7 linked regions of the Homo sapiens genome follow. The protein of the gene in region 1 purifies or fractionates together with the protein of each later gene. This does not show direct contact. Each region holds a gene or a part of one and is shown in the gene's direction. Other genes may lie near its edges. The genes, in order: AXL, MRPS31, PPP6C, SEPTIN8, ACBD3, OAT and ABL2.

What was found.
Region 2: the proteins of AXL (region 1) and MRPS31 purify together in Homo sapiens (affinity purification with mass spectrometry; one large-scale study listed by BioGRID and IntAct). This does not show direct contact.
Region 3: the proteins of AXL (region 1) and PPP6C purify together in Homo sapiens (affinity purification with mass spectrometry, with the first as the bait; one large-scale study listed by BioGRID). This does not show direct contact.
Region 4: the proteins of AXL (region 1) and SEPTIN8 purify together in Homo sapiens (affinity purification with mass spectrometry; one large-scale study listed by BioGRID and IntAct). This does not show direct contact.
Region 5: the proteins of AXL (region 1) and ACBD3 purify together in Homo sapiens (affinity purification with mass spectrometry; one large-scale study listed by BioGRID and IntAct). This does not show direct contact.
Region 6: the proteins of AXL (region 1) and OAT purify together in Homo sapiens (affinity purification with mass spectrometry, with the first as the bait; one large-scale study listed by BioGRID). This does not show direct contact.
Region 7: the proteins of AXL (region 1) and ABL2 purify together in Homo sapiens (affinity purification with western blotting, with the first as the bait; one study listed by BioGRID). This does not show direct contact.

The regions. Positions count from the first base shown.
Region 1 is NC_000019.10:41,253,723-41,257,222, forward strand, and holds part of AXL (tyrosine-protein kinase receptor UFO isoform 1 precursor), read left to right. Parts: intron 1-2,729; coding exon 2,730-2,889; intron 2,890-3,500. UniProt on the Homo sapiens protein: Receptor tyrosine kinase that transduces signals from the extracellular matrix into the cytoplasm by binding growth factor GAS6 and which is thus regulating many physiological processes including cell survival, cell proliferation, migration and differentiation.
Region 2 is NC_000013.11:40,728,628-40,730,909, reverse strand, and holds the end of MRPS31 (small ribosomal subunit protein mS31), read left to right. Parts: intron 1-1,308; coding exon 1,309-1,538; 3' UTR 1,539-1,782; downstream 1,783-2,282.
Region 3 is NC_000009.12:125,151,804-125,155,303, reverse strand, and holds part of PPP6C (serine/threonine-protein phosphatase 6 catalytic subunit), read left to right. Parts: intron 1-1,318; coding exon 1,319-1,398; intron 1,399-1,561; coding exon 1,562-1,771; intron 1,772-3,500.
Region 4 is NC_000005.10:132,774,440-132,778,658, reverse strand, and holds the start of SEPTIN8 (septin-8), read left to right. Parts: upstream 1-1,419; 5' UTR 1,420-1,521; coding exon 1,522-1,551; intron 1,552-4,219. UniProt on the Homo sapiens protein: Filament-forming cytoskeletal GTPase. May play a role in platelet secretion. Seems to participate in the process of SNARE complex formation in synaptic vesicles.
Region 5 is NC_000001.11:226,180,242-226,183,741, reverse strand, and holds part of ACBD3 (Golgi resident protein GCP60), read left to right. Parts: intron 1-3,500. UniProt on the Homo sapiens protein: Involved in the maintenance of Golgi structure by interacting with giantin, affecting protein transport between the endoplasmic reticulum and Golgi. Involved in hormone-induced steroid biosynthesis in testicular Leydig cells.
Region 6 is NC_000010.11:124,399,364-124,401,923, reverse strand, and holds part of OAT (ornithine aminotransferase, mitochondrial isoform 1 precursor), read left to right. Parts: intron 1-84; coding exon 85-198; intron 199-939; coding exon 940-1,084; intron 1,085-2,560. UniProt on the Homo sapiens protein: Catalyzes the reversible interconversion of L-ornithine and 2-oxoglutarate to L-glutamate semialdehyde and L-glutamate.
Region 7 is NC_000001.11:179,107,678-179,111,177, reverse strand, and holds part of ABL2 (tyrosine-protein kinase ABL2), read left to right. Parts: intron 1-332; coding exon of another isoform or gene 333-373; exon of another isoform or gene 374-603; intron 604-722; coding exon 723-896; intron 897-1,736; coding exon 1,737-3,460; 3' UTR 3,461-3,500. UniProt on the Homo sapiens protein: Non-receptor tyrosine-protein kinase that plays an ABL1-overlapping role in key processes linked to cell growth and survival such as cytoskeleton remodeling in response to extracellular stimuli, cell motility and adhesion and receptor endocytosis.

The DNA.
Region 1 (3,500 bases):
GGGACCCCCCCCCCCCAACTGCTCCTGCACTCCCTGAGGGAGTTCCCTCCCTCCTTCTTAGGATGGAAGCAGGGCTAGACACCCGCTGAGGGCAGGTCAGAACTCAGGACCAGGAAAGTCAGTAAGGGGGTCTGGGAAGGCTTCCTGGAGGAGGTGAGTCCTGAACTGAGATCTGGAAGGAGCATTTGGATGCGGAGAGGGAAGAGACCAGAAGGTGGGCTCAGTGCACAGCATGAGGTGAGCAAAGGGGCTGAGGTGACCGATGGGGGTGGGGACACGTGAGCTGCATCTCTGTCCCACTCCATGCTGGGTGTCTTGCCTGGGGCTGCCCTTTGGAAGCGGCCACACTGGATAAGAAAATCAAACTCCCCACCAATGGACAAGCAGAAAATATGCCAGATGGGGTGCAGTGGCTCACGCCTGTAATCCCAGCACTTTGGGAGTCCGAGGCGGGTGGATCACTTGAGGCCAGGAGTTCGAGACCAGCCTTGGTGAAACCCCCTGTCTACTAAAAGTACAAAATTCAGCCTGGTGCGGTGGTGTGCGCCTGTAATCCCAACACGAGAATTGCTTGAACCCAGGAGGCGGAGGTTGCAATGAGCCGAGATCGCATCACTGCACTCCAGCCTGGGCGACAGAGCAAGACTCTGTCTCAAAAAAAAAAAAAAAAAGAAAGAAAGAAAGAAAGAAAGAAAAAAGAAAATAGTAACCTGTAGTCCCAGCCATTCCCAAGGCTTAGGTGAGAGGATTGCTTGAGCCTCGAGACCAGCCTGGGTAACAACAACGAGACACCATCTCAAAAAAAAAGAAAAAAAGAAAAGAAAGAACAAAAAATCCCCCAAAAGCCAGAATAGAGGGTAAGGGGAGGGTAGAAGGTGGAGGGAATGGAACCACAGAGTTAGAATATTAGTCTTGGCCAGGCGCAGTGGCTCACATCTATAATCCCAGCCCTTTGGGAGGCTGAGGCAGGAGGATCACTTGTACCCAGGAGTTCAAGACCAGCCTGGGCAACATAGTGAATCCTGTCTTTACAAAAAATAAATTAGCTGGGCATGGTGGTGTATACCTGTGGTTCCAGCTACTTGGGAGGCTGAGGTGGAAGGATTGCTAGAGCCCAGGAGGTTGAGGCTGAAGTCAGCCATGATGGTATCACTTCACTACTGCCTGGGCAACAGGGCAAGATCCCATCTAAAAAAAAATTGATGTATATTTTACATACACTAAAATATACACATGCAGCTCAGCTCGATGAATTTTTATGGGTATAGACCCATGTAACCACTAGATGAAGGTAAAGAATATTTCTTAGCCCCAGCAGGCTCCTTCATGCCTCTTCGTCTTCCCAATCACTACCGCCAAGTGGTACCCACTATCCTGACTTCTCAGTGCTAGTTTAGCCTGTTCTGAAAAGTCATACAAATGGGATCATGCAGTTTGTACTGCTTTGTGTCTGGCTTCTATGGCTCAGCATGATGTTTTTGAGATGGATCTGTGTAGGGGTAGTTTGCTCTTTTTCTTTGCTGTGTGGTATGGTATTCCATCATATGAATGTCCTGTGGATTTTCTTTTCTTTTTTTCTCTTTCTTTCTTTTTCTTTCTTTTCTTTCTTTTTCTCTCTGTCCTTTCTTCTTTCTTTTCTTTCTCTTTCTCTCTCTTTATCTCCTTCCTTCCTTCCTTCCCTCCCTCCCTCTCTCTTTCCCTTTCTTTCCCTTTTTTTCTTTCTTTTCTTTTTTGTTTTGACAGAGTCTTACTCTGTCCTTTAGGGTGGGGTGCAGTGGCATGATCATAGCTCACTGTAGCCTCCAACTCCTGGCTCAAGCTATCCTTCTGCCTCAGCCTCCTAAGTAGCTGGAACTACAGACATGTGCCACCATGTCCAGCTAATTTTTAAATTTTTTTGTAGAGACAGGGTCTTGCTTTGTTTTCCAGGCTGGTCTTGAACTCCTAGCCTCAAGTGATCCTCCCACCTTGGCCTCCCAAGGTGCTGAAATTACAGGCTTGAGCCACTGTGCCTGTTTTTTTTTTTGTTTGTTTTTGAGACGGAGTCTCACTCACTCTGTTGCCCAGGCTGGAGTGCAGTGGCGTGATCTCAGCTCACTGCAACCTCCGCCTACTGGGTTCAACTGATTCTCTTGCTTCAGCCTCCCAGGTAGCTGGGATTTCAGATGTGCACCAACACACCTGGCTAATTTTTGTACTTTTAGTAGAGACAGAGTTTCACCACATTGGCCAGGCTGGTCTCAAACTCCTGACCTCAAGTGATCCACCTGCCTTGGCCTCCCAGAGTGCTGGGATTACAGGCGCCAGCCACCATGCCCAGCCATGTTCTGTTTCTTAATCTGGGTGCTGGTTACATGGGTGTGTGTGTGTGTGTGTGTGAAAATTCAGTGAGCTGCTTACTTATGACTTGTGCACATTTCCATATGTACAGTATACTTCAAGAAAAAAAAATTTCATCAAGGAATCAAACCCAAGGAAGGACCTTAGAATCTAGCAAAGAGCCAAAATTGGGAAGTCCTGAGGAAGCCCTTTGTCCCATCCTCACTTGACAGAGTGAACAAGAAGTAAAGCAGTTCCCTTCTGGACTGGGATGAAGGTTTAGGAGACAGATCCCCACCCGCAGCCAGGACAGTGAGGGGAGGAGGTGCAGATGTGTCTGAGAGCCAGGGCAGGCTTCCTGGTGGAGGTGACTGATGCCCTGACCCTGTTCCTTTCCCCAATCCAAACAGGCTGAATGAGAACATGTCCGTGTGTGTGGCGGACTTCGGGCTCTCCAAGAAGATCTACAATGGGGACTACTACCGCCAGGGACGTATCGCCAAGATGCCAGTCAAGTGGATTGCCATTGAGAGTCTAGCTGACCGTGTCTACACCAGCAAGAGCGATGTGGTAGGTGCACTCCCGCCAAGAGTGGGGAACCATGGGAGGGCATGGCCTGACCATCACACACTATGCCTGGGTGGCTGTGGATGCAAGGGTCACAGGGACATGTGGGCTTCCCTTTGCAGGGGCTTGTCCACATGGGCTGGGCATGTCTTGGGGTATGGTGGGCATCTCTGAATAGTGGTGTGTACATGCCCAGGATAAATACAGGCCCACGTGTGCATGGTAGCAATGTAGACAGTTTAGGTTAGAAGAAGCTGCAGTGATTATGCGTGCATGTGCGCACACTCATAGAATGTGGACAGCCAGGGTGTGCAGAGTGGCACATGAGCTCATGTGTCCATGAAGTGTGTATATGTGTGTGATGGTGAGCATGTGTATGCATCCACAAAAGTTACTTATTCATGTGTATACCCGTGTCAAGTATTTTTTATATATATATATTTTTCTTTTTTTGAGATGGAGTCTCGCACTGTCACCCAGGCTGCAGTGCAATGGCATGATCTCAGCTCACTGCAGACTCTGCCTCCCGGGTTCAAGCAATTCTCCTGCCTCAGTCTCCCGAGTAGCTGGGATTACAGGCGCCCACCACCATGCCTAGCTAATTTTTGTATTTT
Region 2 (2,282 bases), on another chromosome or scaffold:
TTTTATAGTGTTCTTGATGGTTGCCGTTATTTATGAAAATATTCCTTAGCGGCCGGACGCAGTAGTTCACACCTGTAATCCCAGCACTTTGGGAGGCCGAGGCAGGTGGATCACCTGAGGTCAGGAGTTCAAGCCAGCCTGACCAACATGGTGAAACCCCATCTCTACTAAAAATACAAAAATCAGCTGGGCGTGGTGGCAGGCGCCTGTAATCACAGCTACTGGGGAGGCCGAGGCAGGAGAATCACTTGAACCTGGGAGGTGGAGGTTGCAGAGAGCCGAGATTGCACCATTGCACTCCAGCCTGGGCGACAAGAGTGAAACTCTATCTCAAAAGAAAAAAATAATCATTGGCAATAATTGCTATCCTATTGATTGATTGATTGATTCAGAGTGTCACTCTGTTGTTCAGGCTGGAGTGTAGTGGCTTGATCTTGGCTCCCTACAACCTTTGCCTCTTGGGTTCAAACAATTCTTATACCTCAGCCTCCCAAGTAGCTGGGATTACAGGCACATGCCATCACGCCTGGCTAATTTTTTTGGTATTTTTAGTGGAGATAGGGTTTCACCATGTTGGCCAGGCTTGTCTTGAACTCCTGACCTTGAGTGAGCCGCCTGCCTCGCCTCCCAAAGTGCTGGGATTATAGGCGTGAGCCACCACGCCTGGTCTTGCCACCACATTTTTAACATTTACAGCATGCTAGGCATTGTAAATGAACTTTATATATAGTTTGTGTCTGTTTGATCTTTACAAAAATGCCAGCAAGGTGCTATTTTAGTTCTCATTATTATGCTTGAGGAATCTGCTGCTCAGAGAAGTTAATTAATTAGTCCAAAGTCACTGTTGTTAAATTGGTGGGCAAAGTTAGATCTAACTCCGGGCCAGGCGTGGTGGCTCACTCCTGTAATCCCAACACTTTGGGAGGCCGAGGCGGGCAGATAACTTGAGGTCAGGAGTTCGAGACCAGCCTGGCCAACATGGCGAAACCCTGTCTCTACTAAAAATAAAAAAATTAGCTGGGCGTGGTGGTACATGCCTGTAGTCCCAGCTACTCGGGAGGCTGAGGCAGGAGAATCGCATGAAACCCAGAAGGCAGAGGTTGCAGTGAGCTGAGATCGTGCCACTCCACTTCAACCTGAGCAACAGAGCAAGACTCCATCTCAAAAAAAAAAAAAAAATGCAACCTAGGTCTAACTCCAAAGTTCATGCCTTAAACTGTAATATTATATTACCTCATTAATATTATTTTTATGATGTAGGTTTTGTATTTAAAATTATAATGTAATGTATTTGGTCTCATTTCCTAGGTTTTGATGATGATGGTTCAGAATTTCATGAACATATATTTCTGGAGAAACACCTGGAGAGCTTTCCAAAACAAGGACCAATTCGCCACTTCATGGAGCTGGTGACTTGTGGCCTTTCCAAAAACCCATATCTTAGTGTTAAACAGAAGGTTGAACACATAGAGTGGTTTAGAAATTATTTTAATGAAAAAAAGGATATTCTAAAAGAAAGTAACATACAGTTCAATTAAGACCATGGAAATTTTTATTTCAAACAATTAGAGATGGATATTACAACTAAATAAAATAATTTTACTAGAGTTTGTATATGTTATGTTGATTATTACATTTGATTTGGCTGGTATAAATGTTACATTGTTTTCAAAAATATGATGGTAACTGAAAAATATTCTTGCATGGAGAAAAATCATCAGTATTCATAGGTTCAAAAGAATATCTGGGAATTAGTAATACATTTAAGACAACAACTCCTAACCTTTTTCTTTTCACTCGGTGACCATACTTCTTTGAAATACAATACAATTACTGGATGATATCACAGTACTATGTTATAAGAGTTGAGATGATTTATAGACAGATATATATGTACATACGTTTATTTGTTTACATTTATACATATATTTTACACTAAATTAACTACCCTCACCTAAGTCTGGGTCACTATAGAGAAATTAATCTTGTAGAAATAAAGGGTTTATTCTAATCCATTCTAGTACTTTAGGTCTTCATGCCAAAGTTAGAATTATTTCTTTTCCATTATGCTGCTGAGCAGCGTGACTCAACTTTCATACAATTCAAAGGATTGAGGGCTGGGCACAGTGGCTCATGCATATAATCCCAGCACTTTGAGAGGCCGAGGCAGGAAGATCACTTAAACCAACGAGTTTGAGACCAGCGTGGGCAACATAGGGAGACCCTGTCTCTACAAAAAATTAAAAAATTAGCCGGGCGTGGTAGCATGCACCTGTAGTCAC
Region 3 (3,500 bases), on another chromosome or scaffold:
GTCAGGTTTTTTTTTTTCTAAAATTATGGAAGAAGCCAAAGTACAGAGCTTCCATGGTGTTAACAAAAGAAGTGTGTACCCTATTAACTATGTAGACAGTCAGGGTACAGTGGCTCACATCTGTATTCTCAGCACTGTGGGAGGCTGAGGTAGGAGGATTGCTTGAGCTCAGGAGTTCAAGACCAGCCTGGACAACATAGGGAGATCCCCATCTCTACCAGAAATAAAATTAGCCAGGTGTGGTGGCACTTGCCTGTAGTTCCAGCTGTTCAGAAGGCTGAGGTGGTGGGATCGCTTGAACCCAAGTGGTTGAGGTTGCAGTGAGCTGTGATCGCGCCACTGCTGATTGTGCCACTGTATTCCAACTTGGGCAATAGAGTGAGACCTTGTCTCAAAAACAAAAAACTACGTAGGCAGCAGAAAGAGTGTTCAACTGAGAATTTGTAAGAACCTGATTGGCAATCTGTCCTCAGTTTTGATCCACTGAAGCTCAAGTGTTTAGTCGCACGATTTGCAGAAAATCTCAGAAGAGACAACTTAGCCCTGAGAAGAGTTAGGAATTGCTCATGCTCCTATAACTAAGGATCCTCTAATTTGTTTGATCTGTTTATCCTGCTAGAATTGTCTCCTTAAATAAATTTATCTGCTTACCAGAATTGCCTAATATTAACATAACTGTTAAAACATTTGCTTCAGGTTGTGTGAAATTAGTATTTAACTCTTCTAATGATAGCATTTTGGCTAATAATTTCAGCTGCTTCTTAGGTCCATTCCAGGAATGAAGAGCAGTACTACATCCTTAGGAAATACAGTCATGTGCCACATAATGACATTTCAGTCGATGATGGACTGTATATATGACAGTGGTCCCATAGATAAAACGGAGCTGAAAAATTCCTATTGCACAAATACTTACCATTGTGTTACTATTTCCTTATGATATTTAGTACAGTTACATGCTGCACAAATTTATAGCCTATGAGCAATAGGCTATATCATATTGCCTAGGTGTGTAGTAGGCTAGACCATCTAGGTTTATGTAAGGACATCCGATGATGTTCACACAACGATGAAATCACCTAACAATGCATTTTTTAGAATGTATCCCCATGGTTAAGGGACATACAACTGTATGTAGTTAGTCACTAGCGTTCTTTTGGCTCTATGTGGAGGTCCTAGCAGGACTAAATATGTGTCATATCTTGCTATCCTAGTTTAAGCTGAATTTCTGTTGTACTGAAGGCTGCTCTAGTATTGGATATATTGTTTATTTTTATTAGCAGATTCATTAATTAAAACCCTTCTGTTTCTTTCACAGATGAGTGCCAAACCAAATATGGAAATGCTAATGCCTGGAGATACTGTACCAAAGTTTTTGACATGCTCACAGTAGCAGCTGTAAGTTTCTATTTTTAAAGTCTCATGTACGTTCCTGCCAATAACACATTGCATATTTTTATCTAGTTGTCATCTCAATTATATTGATATCTTTAGTATTCACTGATGAGTTTAGATATGCCTGAGGTTATATGTTCAACTCTTTGTTATCCTTTTTTGCTAGTTAATAGATGAGCAGATTTTGTGTGTCCATGGTGGTTTATCTCCTGATATCAAAACACTGGATCAAATTCGAACCATCGAACGGAATCAGGAAATTCCTCATAAAGGAGCATTTTGTGATCTGGTTTGGTCAGATCCTGAAGATGTGGATACCTGGGCTATCAGTCCCCGAGGAGCAGGTTGGCTTTTTGGAGCAAAGGTCACAAATGAGGTAAAGCCAACATTTTTGGAAATGTAATTTGTGGATTGCTAATGGGCTGCATAGAGAACTATGGTGGCCCTAGATAACAAACTTGTAGTCTAGCTTACTCAAAATATGGTGGCTGTGGATATTAAATTTCTAGTTTAGTTATTAACGTATGTCTTTCTTTAATGGTTAAATAAGATGACACAGTGAAAGCACCTACTCCAGCATCCATTTGGTAATAATGTATAAAGTAAATGTTCTTTCCTTTTTTTTTTGTTTTTGAGATGGAGTCTTGCTCTGTCGCCTAGGCTGGAGTGCAGTGGCGTGATCTTGGCTCACTGCAACAACCTCTGCCTCCCAGGTTCAAGCCATTCTCCTGCCTCAGCCTCCTGAGTAGCTGGGACCACAGGTGTGCGCCACCATGCCTGGCTAATTTTTGTATTCTTAGTAGAGATGGGATTTCACCGTGTTGGCTAGGCTGGTCTTGAACTCCTGACCTCAGGTGATCCACCCGCCTCAGCCTCCCAAAGTGCTGGGATTATAGGTGTGAGCCACCGCACCCGGCCAGCCCCTTTCCTTTCAAGTACTGTAGTTAAGTAACAAAATGGCAAGACCAAGATAGGCAATACTTTTTTTTTTTTTTCTCAAAGACCTCAAATCACACAGATACAGACACTTTATTAGTTTCCTCTACAAGAGACAATAACATGAATCTTTTTTTTTTTGAGACAAGAGTTTCGCTCATGTTGCCCAGGCTGGAGTACAATGGTGCAATCTCGGCTCACTGCAACCTCTGCCTCCTGGATTCAAGCGATTCTCCTGTCTCAGCCTCCCGAGTAGCTGGGATTACAGGTGTACACCACCACGCCTGGCTAATTTTGTATTTTTAGTAGAGACGGGGTTTCACCATGTTGGTGAGGCTGGTCTTGAACTCCTGACCTCAGGTCATCTGCCCACCTTGGTCTCCCAAGGTGCTGGGATTACAGGCGTGAGCCACCGCGCCCAGCCTACGTCAAATCTTTTTTTTCTTTTTAACAGAAATCTCTGTTCATTTGAAAAGCCAAATAGATCCAAAGAAAGAAGATGAAAATTAAATACTTAAATTAATCAAAAGGCACTATGATACCACCTAAAACCTACTGCCACAGTGGTAGTAGGCTAAGGAAGATCAAGCTACAGCAAATCATGTAATGTGAATGTTAGCGATTACATAGCAGGAAGCACATTTGCTTTCCAGAAGACTACGGTACAGTGTTCATTTGGGCCCAAGAGGATCTTTGGCCAGGAAAGGATCAAGATGGATGAAGGTAAAGCCAAATCAAAGGAGTAGGTACAAAAGAGAATCCAAGCTACATAGTCAAGCAGATGATGATGGATCAGGCTTCTTCCTCCCAAGAAACATTTGCTGCGCTGTGCTGCCTCCCCCCTCAACCACCCCCCACCCCCTACCCCATGGCTGCTCAAGCCCAACTGCCTACTCCTGCCTTACAGGGTGCTCAGCCACCGGGACTAGGTTTGGGGTTGCCCAGGGCTCTTGCCATAATTTAGCATAGACCTTGGGGAGAACTGCTCACACATGGGTTGGCTTTGCTGCTGGTTGTTCTCAACAAAGAAAACCCTGAAGCATTCACATGCAGAGTAGTCTGAGCTTCTCCAGTCACAGTCAAACACCCCCACACAACATCCTCAAAAGTCTGAAATCTTGTAACAGCTGAGCTATAGTTAAAGCTGCAAGGCTCACAGAATCATCAAG
Region 4 (4,219 bases), on another chromosome or scaffold:
AGCTAAGGTTAAAAAGCTAGCAGGATTCCACCAGGAAGGTTTGCCATAGATCCAGCTACCCTAACCACTGCTCTGCTCTATTTCTTGTAGATAACTTTAATACAGCATGGGAAACAGCAACATAGAGAGAGGAGCAAAGTGAAAACATTGTCAGGAAGGTCCAGCGGGAAGTCAGTCCACCTTGGGGACAAGCTACAGTTTGCCTGGGAGAGTGAGGAGGGGAAAGCCAAATCAGGGTGACAAGGTCAAACAGCAGAGAGGGGGCTCCTCTTAAGCCAGGTGTGCTAAGTCGAACGTGGTCTTTAGGCACCTCCAGTCAGCACAAGTTTCTGAGTAGGAGAAACAGGTCAGGTTGCTTCTCAGCATACTGGGGTGAGGGGTGTGTGTGGAGGGTGGACCAACCTGGGATGAGGCCAGTGGGGGGTAGGGGGCAAACCTTGCCACATTCCCAGAAAGAGCAGAGAGAAAGGCAGAGGGAAGAGAAAGAAACGGGGTTTCAGAGGATTTGGGAGCTGCTTTTGTATAGATTGTCAGTGAGAAGGATACAGAACCTCCTGAGGCCTCCGACCCTGGCGTAAGTGTTAATTTTCTGAACGTTTTGAGCAGTGACATTAGCGGAGAGAACGTGCACGCACTGGGAGTGGTCATCCTCTTTGCACAATGGTGGAACCATTAAGACGTTGTCCCAAGCCCTTGGGACAGGCAGGGTGATGGACACTTGCAATCTGACGCCTTGACCGTCGAGCTCCGCTTTTCTATTGCAGGAATCCCAGCCTAAACTGCGCATCCTGCTCGTTGGTTGCACAAGGAGCCGAAGGCTGGTCCCTTGCCCGGGAAGGCCGCCTGGCCGGACGCGCGGGTCCCGCCGGGGTTCCCGCCTTAGCTCCGGCCGGAGCATCAGGTGGGGCCCAAGACACCCGCAGACTAGGCTGCCGCGGCCTCTCCCGGATCCGACGGGTCTCCCGCAGCTTGTCCACACTCTGGTTGGTGGTCCCAGCACATTTGCAGGCTCCAGCGGGTGGAGACGGCTTGGTGGGGGAGATCTCTAGGGCGCACGCCGTGCCCCACTTCCCCCTTACGGGAAAGGCTTTCCAGCGCGCGGACCCAGGAGACTCTCACCTAGGCTCGGCCCCAGGCTCCAGGGGACACGCAGAGGCCCGCCGGGCACCAGCCCCGAGCCCCCCGACACTGCCGTCCCGGTCCCCCAACGCGCGGACTACAAGTCCCAGCAGTCCCCGCAGCTGGCACCTCCCGCCTCGCCGCGGAGACCCCCGGCCGTCCAAGCGGCGGGGCTCCGGCTGCGCTCGTGGCCGGGCCGGGCGGGGAGGCCGGTCCCGCGGGCGGGGGCAGGGGCGGCTCCGCGGCTTCTCCCGCCGCCGCCGCCAAGGGGAGTTTCCAGGAAGTGGCCATATTGGATCCATTCAGCCGCAGCCGCCCGGGCGGAGCGCGTCCCGCAGCCGGCTGGTCCCTGTCGCTGCCCCTGCGCTCGTCCCAGCCCACCCGCCCGGTGCGGAGCTCGCCATGGCGGCCACCGACCTGGAGCGCTTCTCGGTGAGGGCCCCGCTGGGCCACGGCGCGCGCGGGAGGCGCGGGGCGCAGGAGGGGCCGCCCTGCAGCTGGCGGGGGGCGCGAAGCGGGCTGTCAGCGCCTCACGGCCGGGCCTCGACACCGGGCCAGCTCGAGGACCCCGGCGCGGGCTCTCGGCCGCGCTATCGGGGGGTCCCGGAGCGTCGGGCGGCCTGCCTTGCCGGGCGGCTGGTCGGGGTCGCTTCCTGGGGCGCAGGCAAGGCTAACCCCTTTCGCGGGAAGGAGCAAAGACCCGCCTGGCTCCGGGCAGGTGCGAAGATAGAGTGGCGCCCGCGGGGCCGCAGGTGAGGGTCCGGGACACTCCGGACCCTATCGCCCAGGGTGTTTCTTTCTGCACACTTGGGGAAGAGTCCTAGCCGCACAGGTGCTGCGGGATAGGTACAGCCGGGGAGGATGGAGGCCCCAGGATCCGAGAGAGTCTCCCACACGAGCCCAGGACAGTTGCAGACTTGAGTCCTGAAGACCCTTGGCCTGCTTTTCCTTCCTCCCCCGCTCCCCTCTGCCCCGCTCCCCACGCCGGAATCCTGGGTGCGACTCCAGGCAGGTCAGGCCTCAGTGGTCGGGTCTGCGGCAGCCATTCGCCAGGAGCTGGAGGGATTCCAGACTCAGCCCAGTGGGCGTTTATTTGGGCTCCAGTCCAGGTCCTCAGAAGGTTGATGTCCCTGGTGGTCCCTGCAGGGGTCTCACTGGGCCTGAGCCTGCCGACAGCCAACTTACTAAAGGCTTTCATAATTCACTCGCGGGAGGGAGGCCTTTGGGGGGTTGTATCTGGACATCCCCTGCTGTCTAAGGCTGGATCTGGGTGTGTCTGGGAGGCTAGGCTGTGACAGTGAAGGAAGCTGTGTCCTCTTGCCAGCATGTAAGGCCCTGGTCGGCTGGAAGGGGGAGGAGGGGGAGAAGGAGGAGGAGGAGGAGGGAGGCCCAGGGCTGTTGGAGGGAAGGGGGAATTCTGAATATGTGAACGATAACGAATTGGTTCTGGGGCTAAATAAGGGAGCCAGGACTTATGTAATTAATGCTATAAATACCGTCATCCCAATTTATATATGTAAATTTTCCATTTAATCTGAAAATACATTTCTTATTCTACTTTGGAAATGTGCATGACTAAAGCAGGAGCTCTTGGTTTCATAATTTCTAGACTCGGGTGTTTTATTCCCATTGGAGAGGGGGTCGTATGTCAGTTAAGTAAGTTTAAATACATGAGGAACAGATTCAGAGGCTGGGCTACTCAGAGATTCACTTCGCCCCGTATTATAAATTGGAATTTATGTACCGGAGGAGGGCAGTGCCTGAATCCTAACAGACCTGCTGATTAGCTGGAGGCCAAGAGACCCGTGAGTGCCTGGGTGTCTCTGCATGTGTGTCTGTGTGCATTTTCTGTGCCCAGCTGACCAGAAAGTTATGTCTGGGTCTTGTCTGTGGCCAGAGGTTTAACAGTTGATGTTGCAGGTGGGAGAGGTATGTAGAGAAACCAGAATCAGACAGCCTGATAGGAATCCTAGACACTCCTTGTTGGCCATGTGACCTTGGGCAGGTTATTTAACCCCTTGGTGCTCTCATGCGTATAATGGGATAGAAATATTTCTTCCCTCATAGGGGTATTGTGAGGATTCAACAAGAGAATCCAGGGGAGGTACTTAGCCCTGTGTCTGGCACATGGTAAGGACACAATAAATAATATATGCTACCTATTGTCCACGTGGATGTGAGGACTGGCCCCCTATGTAAGAAGGGAGCAGAGGATGCATTTGCCCTGTTCATGGCACTCTCTGTAGAGCTTCCATCCCTGCTCGTCCAGAGATGGTCCTCAGAGGGTTAGCTGAGAGGCCATGCTGTGGGCTGGTCAAGCCTTCCCCTGGGGTCCTGTGTTTGCTCTCGGACCATTCCTGTGAGGAGTTTTGGTATTAGCTGCGGGGTGGCCAGGGCACAGAGAGGGGACTGACTCAGGCAAGGGCGTAGAGCCTGAGCGCAGGGCCTTGGTTGCTATGCCAGCTTCAGCTGGAGGGATGGACACCTTCCACACCCTCTGCACTTTGGGCTGTCAGCCTCCTGGAAGGGCTTGGATAGGGTTGGATTTGGGTGGAGACCTTGGGTGGAGTTTGGCCTGAATTTAAGTCTGGACTCCATTCACCCTTCCTGGCTTGTCATCTTGGGAAAATCATTTCTGCCTTTATCTTGCTGTAAAATGGGCAGAGCCACACTGGTTCCTCAGAGAGTTTATGGAGGGTTAATTGCAGTCCGTGGCATGTTTGGAAATATGCTGAGGTGTCTCGCAAGCCCCAGGATGTGATGGAGCCATGACAGGTCTACACTGTCCCTCTGGCCAGCTCAGTGGTCAGTCTAGCCCTGCAGGCCTGAGAATTGTCCTGACCTGGAGCTTAGACGGCATACAGAGTTGTACTTTGAGATGGATGTGTGCTGGGTTCCTGTGTCCTCACATAGCATGGTGTACACACCACAGGCCAACAGCCTTGGCATCCTGACTGGGCTCTGCTCCACCCTAGATCAGTATTGGGGTAAGGGTTGGCATCCCCTGTGTGTGGGTGTGTGGAGCAGCCCTCTGAGGAGGGTGTGTTGCCTCTTGCCTTCCTCGGGCAGCCAGATTCCTGTCCACTCTTGCTGTGCCCCT
Region 5 (3,500 bases), on another chromosome or scaffold:
CAGGTACTTTTGTATTTCTAGTAGAGACGGGGTTTCTCCATGCTGGTCTCGAACTGCCGACCTCAGGTGATCTGCCCACCTTGGCCTCCCAAAGTGTTGGGATTATAGGCGTGAGCCACCGTGCCCGGCACCTTTGTTTTAATGTGTGGATTTTTCTGGTGGAACACATGGTGTTTTGTCAGTCTTGCTGGGACTTTTAATCGCTATTCTATGGTTTTATACCAGTATCTCACGAGAATTAGAAATAACATTACATTTTCGGCCGGGTGTGGTAGCTTTTGCCTGTAATCCCAGCACTTTGGGAGGCCGAGGCGGGTGGATCACAAGGTCAGGAGATCGAGACCACCCTGGCTAACACGGTGAAACCTCATCTGTACTAAAAATAAAAAAATAAAAAAATTAGCTGGGCGTGGTGGCAGGCGCCTATAGTCCCAGCTACTTGGGAGGCTGAGGCAGGAGAATCACTTGAACCCTCAAGGCGGAGCTTGCAGTGAGCCAAGATTTCGTCCCTGCCCTCCAGCCTGGGCAACAGAGCAAGACTCCATCTCAAAAAAATAAATAAATAAAGGAAAGAACATTACATTTTCTCTTCCACTGTGGAATAAATACGAATCTTGAAAGCATGGATATATTTTTCCATTGCAAATAGCTTGGGTTGGAAATGACAAGCCCTATTTCTTATTCCATCCTTGTCAGGGTGGTAATAGGCCAGTGACTGAATCAATTACGTCAACTATTCTTAATTTTTTATGACAGTAAAAGTAAAATAGATGAAGATGTGGGTAAATGTAAGTTAGCATTTTACCATCTAAATTTCAGACATTATTGACTTTTCAGTATGGATAGTTTTATATTAGGTTACAACTATAAATGAATAGTACGTTATCTTTTGCTTAGAGTCCAAAAGAGGAGTTAAGGACCCAGTGACAACTGCAGTACAGTGTGGAGGACTGAGGGAGCAGATGCCATTCCAGAGGGGGGAAGGCCAAGAGCCATGAAAGCCATGAGAAGTCAAAGCATGTCTGTTTGCAAAATGGAAAATAGAAAGCAGTTTGATGGAGAGAGCTGGGAAGGTAACTGAGTTCAATTCTTGGAAGGACTTGCATGCCATTGTCATTTTTTTTTTCTGAGACGGAGTCTTGCTATGTCACCCAGGCTGGAATGCAGTGGCATGATCTCCACTCCCTGCAACCTCTGCCTCCTGGGTTCATGTGATTCTCCTGCCTCAGCCTCGTGAGTAGCTGAGCTTACAGGCTTGTGCCACCACACCCAGCTAATTTTTGTATTATTAATAGAGATGGGGTTTCACCATGTTGGCCAGTCTGGTCTTGGACTGACCCCAAATGATCTCCCCGCCTCGGCCTTCCAAAGCGCTGGGATTACAGGCGTGAACCACCGCGCCTGGCCATGTAAGTATTAATAGTTCGGCCTTTTTGTCAGTAAATTAGAAGATGAGGAACCACTGGAGGTTTTTAAAGGGAGGAGCAAAGTTGCTCAATTCTTTTTTTTTTTTTAGACAGTCTGGTTTTGTTATGCAGGCTAGAGGGCAGTAGTGCGATCTTGGCTCACTGCCCCCTATGCCTCCCAGGCTCAAGCCATCCTCCCACCTCATCCTCCTGTGTGACTGGGACCACAGGCACGAGCCACCATGCCCGGCTAATTTTTGTATTTTTTGTAGAGACAGAGGTCTTGCTTTGTTGCCCAGCTGGTCTTTAGCTCCTGAGCTCAAGCGATTCACCCGCCTTGGCCTCTCAAAGTGCTGGGATTACAGGCATGAGCTACCACGCCCGGCCAGAGTTGCCCAGTTCTATTTTAACAATGTTAAGCTAGGTTTTCTTATCTCCATGGGTTAAGGACCCACAGGAATCCAGTGGGTTCATTTTATTATGACCTTTATACTTCTTGGATGGAGTTGACCTGGGGAATTGTATTTTGGTTTTTAGAGTTCTTTGGGGTGGACTTTTCCTTCTCTAATACTTTATTACTGTATTACATTAAGCTGGTAGATTGTTTACATTAATTTAAGATTTCAGAGTAATAATTGTCAATAGTTATTGAGTAGATGTTTACTAAATCTCAGGTACTATGCCAAAAACTGTATGTACATTATTTTGTTTAATCCTCCAAGAGGCCTTCTGTAAGGGTATTAATCCCATTTCTGAGTTAAGGATCCTGCCTCAGGCCCCTCAGTTATTTGGAAGGTAAGTCTTGGACTCATTTTCTTTATGGAATAGTTCTACTAGCATTGCTATTGATTATACCCAATTGTGTTACTGATAGTAGAGTATTATATGTTGGGAGAGAATTATATTAATGATAGCAAACAAATGGACAACTGAAATGGTTCCATTTCCTCTTGTCTTCTTTAAACATAGGCAACTACAAGAGCATTTATAAATGGCTTCCTTAATGTTTTAAAATACTGTACAGCTGTAATTTATTCATTGGAAACATATATAATTAGTGTGCCTCCTGGACTTCAGTGGTCTATCCTCAGATAATTTCAAGTTTGTTACTATGGAACATCTATTAGAGTTCTTTTTCCCTTTTATTATCTTTACCTTTAGACATAAGTATGTAATACTGTAGGAGGATATATAGACCTAAGAGAGACAGATGTAAGACAGAAAAACAATTATAGCCACCAAGTTCATGTTAAATTTGAGCTGAACCAAAACTTTCCTTTGACTGGATTCAGGAATGTGTATGTGTTGTTGTTGTCATTGTTTTTTTTTTTTTTTTTGAGATGGAGTCTCATTCTGTCACCGAGGCTGGAGTGCAATGGCGCGATCTCAGCTCACTGCAGCCTCTGCCTCCTGGGTTCAAGCAATTCTCCTGCCTCAGCCTCCCGAGTAGCTGGGATTACAGGCACATGCCACTACGCCCAGCTAATTTTTGTATTTTTAGTACAGACAGGGTTTCACCATGTTAGTCAGGCTGGTCTCGAGCTCCTGACCTCAGGTAATCCACCTGCCTTGGCCTCCCAAAGTGCTAGAATTACAGGCGTGAGCCACTGTGCCCAGTGTGTATATGTTTTTAATGTAAGTGATTTTAACATTTTCCCGAGGCTTCCCTTTATCACACATGCAGTGCACTAAAGTACACAAATACTAAGTGTGTAGCTTGATGAGTTTTCAGAAAGTGGACAGTGTAGCCAATGCCCAGGAGCAGATGTTTTATCAGTTAACTAATACAAGAGCTACTGTGAATCAGTATTTAGAAAGGTAAGCTCTGGAGTCAACACTCTTTAGGGTGTGTTTTCCTTGCTCTGCCACTTAATTTTGTTAACTTTTTGTGCTTTCCTGTACTCAAAGGGTTGTTTTAGGAATTATAAGAAATTATATATATAAACTCTTAGCAGAATGCCTGGCTATTGGTATTTTTGTGGCTGCTTATGTTGTTGAAAAGGAGGTACTTCTGAGAATTGATTATGGATGTTTTGAGTTAATGGAGGGGAAGTCTTAAAACTTTTACTAAGCAGTTAGTATATGCTAGGCAAT
Region 6 (2,560 bases), on another chromosome or scaffold:
GGTGACAGCGAGACTCTGGGGAAAAGGATGCTTAGTAGAATGCTTAGTGCTGAGAAATGACATGGTGAATTGACTGTCTTTCAGGTGTCTGCAGTGCTGTGTGATGATGACATCATGCTGACCATTAAGCCAGGGGAGCATGGGTCCACATACGGTGGCAATCCACTAGGCTGCCGAGTGGCCATCGCAGCCCTTGAGGTAAAGACTGATACAGCCACACAGTGTCTATTCTTTAAAGCAATGTTGAAGTGATTTTTAATTTGGGCCCACTGGTATAATAAAAAATTCAATAAGAATGCCAAATATTAGAAAACATGAAGTATAGAGGAAAAATTTTAGGAACAAGATATTCTCAAAAAGTAATTTAAACTTGGCCTAGTAGACTGGATTTCCTCCGTGGGCTTCCTGAGTTCACAGTCACCTGGCGCTTTGAGTTCTTCGGCCCTGGCTGGCCCTCATAGAACTCTCAACTGTGACCCACCTACCAGACCCGTCTTTTTGCTTAGCAAGCAAGTCTTCTTTCAAGTGTGGATTTATAATGTTTTCAGACTGATTTTTTAAGTGCCTGCTGAAGGTATACAATTATTATGTAATCTCTGAGGACAGATCTTTGTGAGGGGGGAAGAAACTATTGCAGTTTAGGAATTACATTTCGTCCATTGATGTATTCAATTAATGACAGTATGTGAGTTGCATTAAATAAACTTTAATCCTTATTTTGCCATGAATGATTGGCAATAGATTTGTGATGAAAGCAAGACTCTGAGCTAGTGTATGTTTAATTAGAAACTAATACAGGCTTTGAAAAATAGCAATGAAAGTTAAGTTCCTCTGGTATTTTATCTAGTCATGTTTTTCCTGTGTTTACAGTCCCCGTTGTCCTCCAAAAAACAAAAAAAGGACAGTCTTAATATTTGTATAATTTTTCTTTAAACGTAGGTTTTAGAAGAAGAAAACCTTGCTGAAAATGCAGACAAATTGGGCATTATCTTGAGAAATGAACTCATGAAGCTACCTTCTGATGTTGTAACTGCCGTAAGAGGAAAAGGATTATTAAACGCTATTGTCATTAAAGAAACCAAAGGTATGGAGATAAAACATTTACTCAAGATAATTTTTTAAGGAAGACCTAAAATACACTTGGTATTTAATTTAATTAATTTATTTATTTTTCGAGACGGAGTCTTGCTCTGTCTCCTAGGCTGCAGTGCCGTGGCGCAATCTTGGCTCACTGCACTCTGCCTCCTGGGTTCAAGCAATTCTCTGCCTCAGCCTCCTGAGTAGCTGGGATTACAGGCGCCTGTCACCACGCCCAGCTAATCTTTATATTTTTAATAGAGATGGGGTTTCATAATGTTGGCCAGGCTGATCTCAAACTCCTGACCTCGTGATCCACCTGCGTTGGCCTCCCAAAGTGTTGGGATTATAGGCGTGAGCCCACCGCGCCCGGCCACACTTTTTTTTTTTTTTTTTTTTTAAGATGGAGTCTTGCTCTGTTGCCAGGCTGGAGTGCAATGGCGCCATTTTGGCTGACTGCAACTTCCGATGCCCCGGTTCAAGCGATTCTCCTGCCTCAGCCTCCCGAGTAGCTGGTATTACAGGCACGTGCCAACACGCCCAGCTAATTTTTGTATTTTTGGTAGAGATGGGGTTTCACCATGTTGGCCAGGGTGGTCTCGATCTCCTGACCTCGTGATCCGCCTGCCTCAGCCTCTGAAAGTGCTGAGATGACAGGCATGAGCCACTGCTCCTGGCCACACTTGGTATTTTAATTGGGTGTTGGGATGTTCTGTTTGAAACTGCTGACTGACATAATGACCAAACCTTTTAGACAGATTATTGTCTGATTTATAATTATATTAAGAGTATAAAAAATATAGCTCTTTTCTAAATGAAGGCACATTTAACCAATTTGACCCTTGTTCCTTTAAGACACTTATTTTTCTGCCTTAAATTAGTCATGCAGTATTTAGAGAGTTCAAGTTTTTTTGTTGGTGAGTCTGGACTTGAAAGTGTCCTCTTTGCTATCCTTCCCTCCCTCACTTTGATGCTTTGTGTCAGTAGAGGTTATAGGAGCAGCAGAAATAATGATATGAATGACAGTTATGGGGTCAATAATAAAAATAATGCTGGCTGTCACTTAATTGGGTGTTTGATGTTTTAGTACATCCTTTGTAACCCTTAGGTGTTCCTTGCTGGATTTTCTTGTGATAACTCTTCCTTTTAAAGCAACGATTCCAACCTCCCAACCTTGGCTGCACTTAAAGAATCACCTGAGGGGCCGGGCGCGGTGTCTTATGCCTGTAATCCCAGCACTTTGGGAGGCCGAGACGGGTGGATCACGAGGTTAGGAGATCGAGACCATCCTGGCTAACACAGTGAAACCCCATCTCTACTAAAAATACAAAAAAATAGCCAGGCGAGGTGGTGGGTGCCTGTAGTCCCAGCTACTCAGGAGGCTGAGGCAGGAGAATCGCTTGAACCTGGGAGGTGGAGCTTGCAGTGAGCTGAGATTGCGCCGCTGCACTCCAGCCTGGGCGGCAGAGTGAGACTCCGTCTC
Region 7 (3,500 bases), on another chromosome or scaffold:
ACCCCATCTCTACTGAAAATACAAAGAATAGCTGGGTGTGGTGGCGGGCTCCTGTAATCCCAGCTATTTGGGAGGCTGAGACAGGAGAATCGTTTGAACATCGGAGGCAGAGGTTGCAGTGTGCTGAGATCACGCCATTGCACTCCAGCCTGGGCAACAGGGTGAGACTCCATCTGCAAAAAAAAAAAAAAAAAAAAGCCAAAAATAATAACATCAAATTTTAGCAAGCATGCAGAGTAACCACAGCTTTCATGCAAAATAGTATCGCTATTTGGGGACAGGTTGGCAGGGCCTAATAAACCTGAATACACGTATACCCTGTGATCCACCAGTTCTCCTACATTGTGCCAATCAGACGTGCATAACATTGTGAACCAAAAGACACAGAGCAGGATGATGCTAGCAACGTATTCATAGTAACTCCAAACTGGAAACAACCTAAACATCCATCAAGAGGAGAACAGGTGGATTGTGGTATATTCACACGTTGGCATGCTACACAGCAATGAGAACCCCTGCCACATGCAGCAGCGTGGACGAATCTACACACATGATACTGGGCGAAAGAAGCCAGACAAAAGAGTACATACTTTATGATTCCGTGTATGTATTTTAGTACTCTACTTGCCAGTTCTTTCTCAGTTGTGTGCCTTTTCTGAAAAGAACTCCCTTTTTCTGCTATGAAATTGTTCTTTTTATTGGTCCCCTTGTCTTCCTCACAGAGGTAGCTGAGGAGCTTGGGAGAGCCGCCTCCTCGTCATCTGTTGTTCCATACCTGCCCCGGCTACCTATACTTCCTTCCAAGACTCGGACACTGAAGAAACAGGTGGAGAACAAGGAGAACATTGAAGGGGCACAAGATGCCACAGAAAATTCTGCTTCCAGTTTAGCACCAGGTATGGGTCCCTTAGCAGGTAGAATCAAAATAGAAACTGCCTTGTTTAAAGAAGCATGGGGTGTGAGGCTTTTATGTCCACTTTCATGCCCGTCCTCCCTGGGGAAAGCATGGCGTCTCTTTTACCCACCCATGAAGCCCTTGGCTATCCATCCAACATACAACTCTGGCTCCAGTTTCATCTCCGTACCCCTGGGTTCCCAAGTATGTATCATCTTTACAGTTCCATCAAAAACTTCGCTGAACCCGATAGAGGAGAAGAGGTTGCGCAGTGGTTTTTAAAGAAAGGATGAGTGTTGAGGTAATAACCAGCAGGTTATCTCCTCCCCCATTTTTTTTTTCTTTTTTTTTTTTTGAGACGGAGTCTCACTGTGTCGCCCAGGCTGGAGTACAGTGGTGCGATCTCGGCTCACTGCAAGCTCCGCCTTCTGGGTTCACGCCATTCTCCTGCCTCAGCTTTCCGAGTAGCTGGAACTACAGGCGCCCGCCACCATGCCCAGCTAATTTTTTGTAGTTTTAGTAGAGATGGGGTTTCATCGTGTTAGCCAGGATGGTCTTGATCTCCTGACCTCCTGATCCTCCTGCCTCAGCCCCCCAAAGTGCTGGGATTACAGGCGTGAGCCACCGTGCCCGGCCCCCTATCTTCCCCCATTTTTAACTTACATCACATTTGGAACACCAGTCACTGTGAAATGATAATGTATTTATTATTTGCTTCTGAGTCCTGCCAACACCTGACCTTTGATAAATGCTGACAAAACTCATAATGCAGCCTCGGTAACTCAAATGTAATAGATTCACTTCTTGTCTTTTAAGTTACTGATCGGCCATTTCTCATCAGGGTTCATCAGAGGTGCACAGGCCTCTAGTGGATCCCCAGCACTGCCTCGAAAGCAAAGAGACAAGTCACCCAGCAGCCTCTTGGAAGATGCCAAAGAGACATGCTTCACCAGGGATAGGAAGGGGGGCTTCTTCAGCTCCTTCATGAAGAAGAGAAATGCTCCTACACCCCCCAAACGCAGCAGCTCCTTCCGAGAAATGGAGAATCAGCCCCATAAGAAATACGAACTCACGGGTAACTTCTCATCTGTTGCTTCTCTACAGCATGCTGATGGGTTCTCTTTCACTCCTGCCCAGCAAGAGGCGAATCTGGTGCCACCCAAGTGCTATGGGGGGAGCTTTGCACAGAGGAACCTCTGTAATGACGACGGTGGTGGGGGTGGGGGCAGTGGCACTGCTGGGGGTGGGTGGTCTGGCATCACAGGCTTCTTTACACCACGCTTAATCAAAAAGACACTGGGCTTACGAGCAGGTAAACCCACAGCCAGTGATGACACTTCCAAGCCTTTTCCAAGGTCAAACTCTACATCTTCCATGTCCTCAGGGCTTCCAGAGCAGGATAGGATGGCAATGACCCTTCCCAGGAACTGCCAGAGGTCCAAACTCCAGCTGGAAAGGACAGTGTCCACCTCTTCTCAGCCAGAAGAGAATGTGGACAGGGCCAATGACATGCTTCCAAAAAAATCAGAGGAAAGTGCTGCTCCAAGCAGGGAGAGACCAAAAGCCAAGTTATTGCCCAGAGGAGCCACAGCTCTTCCTCTCAGAACACCCTCTGGGGATCTAGCCATTACAGAGAAGGACCCTCCAGGGGTGGGAGTGGCTGGAGTGGCAGCTGCCCCCAAGGGTAAAGAGAAGAATGGTGGGGCACGACTTGGGATGGCTGGAGTTCCAGAGGATGGAGAGCAGCCGGGCTGGCCTTCTCCAGCCAAGGCTGCCCCCGTCCTCCCAACCACTCACAACCACAAAGTGCCAGTCCTTATCTCACCCACTCTGAAACACACTCCAGCTGACGTGCAGCTCATTGGCACAGACTCTCAGGGGAATAAATTCAAGCTCTTATCTGAGCATCAGGTCACATCCTCTGGAGACAAGGACCGACCCCGACGGGTAAAACCAAAGTGTGCCCCACCCCCACCACCAGTGATGAGACTACTGCAGCATCCGTCCATCTGCTCAGACCCTACAGAAGAGCCAACTGCCCTAACTGCAGGACAGTCCACATCAGAAACACAGGAAGGAGGAAAGAAGGCAGCTCTGGGCGCAGTGCCCATCAGTGGGAAAGCTGGGAGGCCAGTGATGCCTCCACCTCAAGTGCCTCTGCCCACATCTTCCATCTCGCCAGCCAAAATGGCCAATGGCACAGCAGGTACTAAAGTGGCTCTGAGAAAAACCAAACAGGCCGCTGAGAAAATCTCAGCAGACAAAATCAGCAAAGAGGCCCTGCTGGAATGTGCTGACCTACTGTCCAGTGCACTCACGGAACCTGTGCCCAACAGCCAGCTGGTAGACACTGGACACCAGCTGCTTGACTACTGCTCAGGCTATGTGGACTGCATCCCTCAAACTCGCAACAAATTTGCCTTCCGAGAGGCTGTGAGCAAACTGGAACTCAGCCTGCAGGAGCTACAGGTTTCTTCAGCAGCTGCTGGTGTGCCCGGGACAAACCCTGTCCTTAATAACTTATTGTCATGTGTACAGGAAATCAGTGATGTGGTGCAGAGGTAGCCACTGTTAGCCTGGTGGGAAAATGCACACATTTCTGAGG